Linked DNA regions of Homo sapiens: region 2 is linked to region 1. A link means that fine-mapping ties the variant in region 1 to the expression of a gene that starts in the linked region. Tissue or cell type: subcutaneous fat. Region 1 holds a variant in brackets; the other region holds the start of a gene. All regions are shown on one strand. Distances are between the middles of the regions. Region 1 overlaps FLJ16779 (a long non-coding RNA gene). Region 2 holds the start of SLC17A9 (solute carrier family 17 member 9).

Region 1 (2,991 bases):
GACAGTGATGGACAGCGGAGGACAGTGATGGCGAGCGGAGGACAGTGATGGAGAGCGGAGGACAGTGATGGACAGCGGAGGACAGTGATGGCGAGCGGAGGACAGTGATGGACAGCGGAGGACAGTGATGGACAGCGGAGGACAGTGATGGACAGCGGAGGACAGTGATGGAGAACGGAGGACAGTGATGGACAGCGGAGGACAGTGATGGACAGAGGAGGACAGTGATGGAGAGTGGAGGACAGTGATGGACAGCGGAGGACAGTGATGGACAGTGGAGGACAGTGATGGAGAACGGAGGACAGCGATGGACAGCGGAGGACAGCGATGGACAGCGGATGACAGTGGAGGACAGCGGATGACAGTGGAGGACAGTGGAGGACAGCGATGGACAGTGGAGGACAGTGATGGACAGCGGAGGACAGTGATGGACAGTAATGGACAGTGATGGACAGCGGAGGACAGTGATGGACAGCGGAGGACAGCGATGGACAGTGGAGGACAGTGATGGACAGTGGAGGACAGTGATGGACAGAGGAGGACAGTGAAAGACAGAGAAGGACAGCAATGGAAGGACAGCCACCCCAGTCAGCACAAACGCAGGCCGAGTGGGGCCCATGCATTCCTGGGAGGACTGGCAAGCTGGGAAAGGCCTCCAGGGCAGGGAAACTCAGGAGAGTGACAGCTTGTTCAGGCCAGGACCTTGTGCATCTTCTCCTTTTTTCTTTCTTAGTAAACCCAGTGTATTCATTTTTAGCGGCTGCCATAACAAATTCCCATAAACTAGCGGCTTGAAGCCACGGAAGTTTATTACGTCACAGTTGTGGAGGCTAGACATCTAACATCCAGGTATGGGCAGGGTTGCACTGCCTTCGAAGCTCTGGGGAGGGTCCTTCCTGCCCCTCCCAGCTCCTGTGGCTCCCAGCGTCCTTAGCCTGTGGGCGTTATCGCTCTGGTCTTTGCCTCCACCTTTGCGTGACCTCCTCCTCTCCTGTGTGTCACTTGCTATGATGCTTGTGATGCCATTTAGGGCCCACCTATGTAATCCAGCATGCTCTCATGTCAAGATCCCTAATCACATCTGCAAAGAACCTTGCCCCAAACTCCTGGCTTCAAGCAATTCTCCTGCCTTGGCCTCCCAACATGCTGGGTTTGCAGGTGTGAGCCACTGTGCCAGGCCTAGATTTGGGGGCCACCATTCAGTCGCTGCTCTCCCACACCTGCAGCAGCCCCAGCCCGCCCGCAGGGCAGACCTTCCTTGTGGCAGAGACAACAGGAAAAGGAAAGGAAGAGGAACCCAGGCCTGGGTTCCCGGCAGAGCTGTCCGCAGAGCCTGTGCGGGGCTGCAAAG[G/T]CCCCTCTGTTGTCACAACACCCCTGTCCCCGTTTCAGATGAAACCGGGAGAACTTTCAACTGCAACAAACACTCCTGGAAAAGGAGAGGCCAATCCCCATGGCTCCACAGAGAGCACAGCCAGACCCCTTCATCCAGGCCCACAGGCAATGTTGTCGACTCTGTTCTTCCTTTGAAAAAAAAGGGTGCTGGTTGGTTTCCAGTTTACTGCAGACACACAGAGAGGCCCCTCTCTGGCTCAGAGCCTGGCCCGGGTCTCTCCAGTCCCAGCTTCTCCCTCCCGAAAGGAACGTCCTGCCCAACAATGCAACACGTGTGTGCACTCCCAGTGTGGGAATCAGGCTGAGCTGGACTTCAGGGGCAGCCCAGGATGCTTGCCTCGGGTGGGGCGTTTTCCCAGAGGTTTCTTGGGAGCTGCCTGGGAGTTGCCGCAGCTTCTTCCCAGCTGGCTTCAGCCCAGGCTTCCTGGGTGAGATTCTTGTTCCCTGGCCCCTCACGGTACGCGTGGTCCTGTTCCCCGCAATCCCCCACCCCCTTGAACTCCGTTCCCACACTCAGGACCCACCCAGATGCCAGCTCCCCGCAGAGCAGTGCAGCCCCCCACTTCCAGCCCTGACGGCACACACCCTGCCCCCCACCACCATTTTGGAATTGTTCTTCGCCAGAAATACCGTTTCCCACCCTGTCTTCTTATTCTCGGAGGCAGAGGCACTTCAGCTTCCTGGGCCGTCTGTCACTGAGTCACCCTGGTTTCCATTGGCAGTGCCGCCTCTCCCTCACTCGGATGCTTCTGTGCAGCCACACGGGCTGTGTGTGCAACCTCAGGGGACGCATCAACCACGTCCTCGGGCTGGCCGTAGAGACATGGCCTCCGCCTGAGTGTGGCCGTCAGACTCTCCCTGGTACTATAAGCCCTCGGCTGAGGGGGCAGAGGGGCAGCTAGGATCATGGCCGCAGCTCCCAGAGGGGAGCCCCCATCCTCCAGGCCGTCTTACCGAGCCTGCTCCCCAGCCTGCGCCTTTCCTGACTTCCCTCCAGGCTCCTGTTGCTGGCGACCACAGAACCAGCCTCAGGGCTTTCCTGTCCTTCCTGTCAGGGGTCCTTTCCCAGTGGGAGCTCTGGGCGGGTGGGCCTGTCCCAGGAGAGTCACGTAGCTTGTTTAAGGAGAAGATCCCCATGGCTCTTGTGTGCACATGTGGGGCCTCTCTCCCCAGGGGCTGCTGTGAGCCTGGGAAGTCCCAGGTGGTGTCTCATGCCCCAGAGAGTAGCCCCCTGTGCACCTCGCACACGCCCTCCTGCGGGTCTGCTGACTTTCTCCTCTGCCTCAGCCAAGTCTCCCACGCGGAGCAGGTGGGAACTGAATGAAGGCCTCACAGGATTCTGAGTCCCCGGTCTGACACCCACCTGGCTCAGCACCTGCCTCCTCAGCTTCCAGTTGCACGGGTGGCCGCAGGCGTCAGGGTGTGACGGCGAGCGTGGCCAGTCCGGTCAGAGGTCTCTGCATCCTCCACACCTCTGGCCAGGTGAGACCCAGCCTGTGTCTCTCCCAGCTCTACTGACGGACGGCAGGAAGCTGAGACCCCGAGCCCGTGTGTCCTCGGTTCTTGGTGCTTTGCAATGCCCCTGGCCCTGGCTGCAGC
Region 2 (2,803 bases), 310 kb before region 1:
TCCAGGAGGAAGGGGACTTTGGGTAACCAGATGGCAAATGTCTGCTGCAGCATGATCACAGATCTCGGTAGGAAATCACCATCACAGAGTGAATGGAAGCGAATCACCTCAAAGAGGGTGCTGTTGACAGCGATACGTTTAGCAACAGTTTCCAAACTTCCTGGCTATGGGCTAGGGCTGTTTGGGGCAATAAACCTCTCTCTGCCACCATCTTTTCACCTACCCTACGTCAGGATGGATGAAAGTATGACCTTGCTTTTCAGGGTGCCCGTGTCTTTCTGTTCAGAGGGCCCTGGGAGCAGGCCCTGCAGTGCAGTGGGTTGGGCTGTTGGAGACCTGAGGGCTAGGGGGAGGGAGGGGGTAAATGTGGGTCTGTTCTAAGTGCAAGGCCCTGCCTTAGACGTGTCTCCCTCGGCCCCTGGGTGGTGGCTGCTGCGTGGAGGATGGACTGAGGTGGGCCCTAGTGGAGGTGGGGGCAACGCCTGAGGAGCAGGCCCTGCCGCCTCCTGGGGAAAGGCTGCATGGTTGAGGCCTTCCCCTGCTGGCTTCATCCTTGGCATGGCAGCAGGAGCACACAGAGTGGGGGCCCCACCCCGTCACCCCTGCCCCCGAGCCCAGAACCTGGCCTGTGATGGGTCCTCAGGACACCTTTTGTCCAGGAACCCAGGGGCCAATGACAACCTTCACAGGCATCTGCTGAGAAGACATGGGCCAGCGCTGGATTTGTCCAGCTCTCCCAGGCTTGGTCCAAGGGCTCAGGAGTGGACCCATCCCTGCCCCGAAAGATCCATTTTAAAAATCAGTGACCCTGTACTTTTACTCTCTTTGCACTTGGTTAAGACTTTATCCCTGATTTTATTTGATCGGTAAGGCAGGGACTGCCATCATTCCCCATTTTATAGACAGAGGACAGACGGCCCCATGGCTCCGTGTCGTGTCCAAGGGATGGGCTGGCACCTCTTGGACCAGGCTTACCACCAGGGCCCTTCTCTGAAGCCCCAGTCTGACCGGCCTGCTGCTGGGAATCCCCCTCTGCCCCCACACTAACCTCTGCTGGGGCTGAGCCAGGGCGCGTCGGACAGTCAGGGCGACCCAGCCAGGGCGACCGTTGGCCCCGCTCCTATGGGGCAGCAGGGACCGACGTCAGCAGGGTGGGGCGGGCACCCGAGTGGTATGCCCCGCCCTGCCCCGCCTGCCCGCCCTGGTGGCCGTCTGGGGGCGACAAGTCCTGAGAGAACCAGACGGAAGCGCGCTGGGACTGACACGTGGACTTGGGCGGTGCTGCCCGGGTGGGTCAGCCTGGGCTGGGAGGCAGCCCCGGGACACAGCTGTGCCCACGCCGTCTGAGCACCCCAAGCCCGATGCAGCCACCCCCAGACGAGGCCCGCAGGGACATGGCCGGGGACACCCAGTGGTCCAGGTGTGGCGGGGGTGAGGGGAGGGGGGGTGGGAGCGGTGGAGATGGGGCCGTGGGGAGGGAGCTGAGATACTGCCACGTGGGACGATGCTAGGTGGGGAGGGCTGAGCTGGGCGGGCTCCTCTGGCTGTGGGGCCCCCTGTGTTCCTTGTGGGAGGTGGAAGGAAGTGAGTGCCCTGTCCTTCCTCCCTGCCATGAGATTCCAGGACCGGACCTGGCAAGTGCCCTATCCCAGCCAGTGTTCCTGGGGCTCTTCCAGGCAGGGCTATGTTCCCCAGGCCAGGGGCATTGTCCTGGACAGTCAGGAGGCATACCCCTCGCCAGGTGGAACCACCCTGTGTATGCATGACCCTGACAAGCAGGCGCCAGGACAGTCAGGAGGCCAGGTAGGGGGCACGGGCTGGAGCCTGCAGCTGGACGGGGTTGGGGGGGGTCCTGCCACCACGTGCCAGCTGTGTGCTGAGGACGAGCTCCCCGCTGGCTTCAGCTCTCGGAGCATTTGGTGGTGGGGAGAAGCAGGGCCTGGGCAGGTCGCCTGGCCACCAGCACTGCTGCCTGTAGGAGGCTCCCTGGGCAGGTGACGCCTCAGAAACCGGGCGAGATGGTGACCGCGGGCCATTGGTCAGCTGGGGAGGGCCTCTGCCAGGGAGCTCCTGAGAGCAGCCCCCACACTGCTGAACCCCTTGGCTCTGGGTCTTGGGCTGAGGCCTTAAGTGGCTGGACCCTGGGCCTAGACTCAGGCCCTGTGGGTTCCAGAGCAGTCTCCTGCCTGCACTGAGTCCCCAGGGTACCTACCCTGACCATGGCAAGGTAATGGCACCTTCTGGCCCCACCAGTTCCCAGCTGTATGAGGGCTGAGGACCCTAGAAGTGCTGGGAAGAGTTGTAGGAAGGCCCAAAGGGGCAGTGCCACCATCGGATGTTGGCACCCAGATGAAGGGAGCGCTGGCTGCATGGGAAAAGCTGGCAGCCCAGATCACAGCCCTGTCAGGCGCCAATTAGAGGGGAGGGCTGCCCTCAGCGGGCCCTGCCCCTTGCTCTCTTCCTCTTCCCCCACCCACGTTCATCCAGGCCTGCCGGGCAGGGCCAGCTCCCCAGGGATTCAGGGCCTCCTCACTGGCGGCTGGTTTGAGTGGCTCCGCCTTCACTACGTCCCTCCCAGGCTCGATGTTTAAAAAGGAGCCCTTGCCGCAGCCTTCACTACGTCCCTCCCAGGCTCGATGTTTAAAAAGGAGCCCTTGCCGCAGCCTTCACTACGTCCCTCCCAGGCTCGATGTTTAAAAAGGAGCCCTTGCCACAGCTCTTCAACTTCCTTTGCAGGCCCTTATTGGGTAGCGCCAAGGATTCTGGAGGGGCCTGTGGGTCAAGGCTGCCACACGCACGCCTT

Evidence for each region. PIP is the estimated chance that this variant, and not a neighbour inherited with it, causes the effect. A credible set is the group of variants that fine-mapping cannot tell apart.
Region 2: SLC17A9 starts here. The variant in region 1 is the best candidate, but not a certain one, in a credible set for the expression of SLC17A9 in subcutaneous fat (GTEx, PIP 0.50).

The regions. Positions count from the first base shown.
Region 1 is chr20:63,257,370-63,260,360 of GRCh38, forward strand. FLJ16779 (a long non-coding RNA gene) reads left to right here. Exons shown (of 1, transcript NR_024389.1): 1 at 1-2,991. Among named protein-coding and RNA genes, the nearest start is that of NKAIN4, 4.4 kb to the left of the region's middle. RefSeq lists enhancers at 787-1,404, 2,640-2,991. The variant G/T (reference allele first, on the strand shown) is at 1,352.
Region 2 is chr20:62,951,470-62,954,272 of GRCh38, forward strand. It overlaps SLC17A9 (solute carrier family 17 member 9), which reads left to right and starts at 1,240. Exons shown (of 13, transcript NM_022082.4): 1 at 1,240-1,420. The coding sequence starts at 1,362. RefSeq lists an enhancer at 650-1,479 and silencers at 1,031-1,350, 1,361-1,460.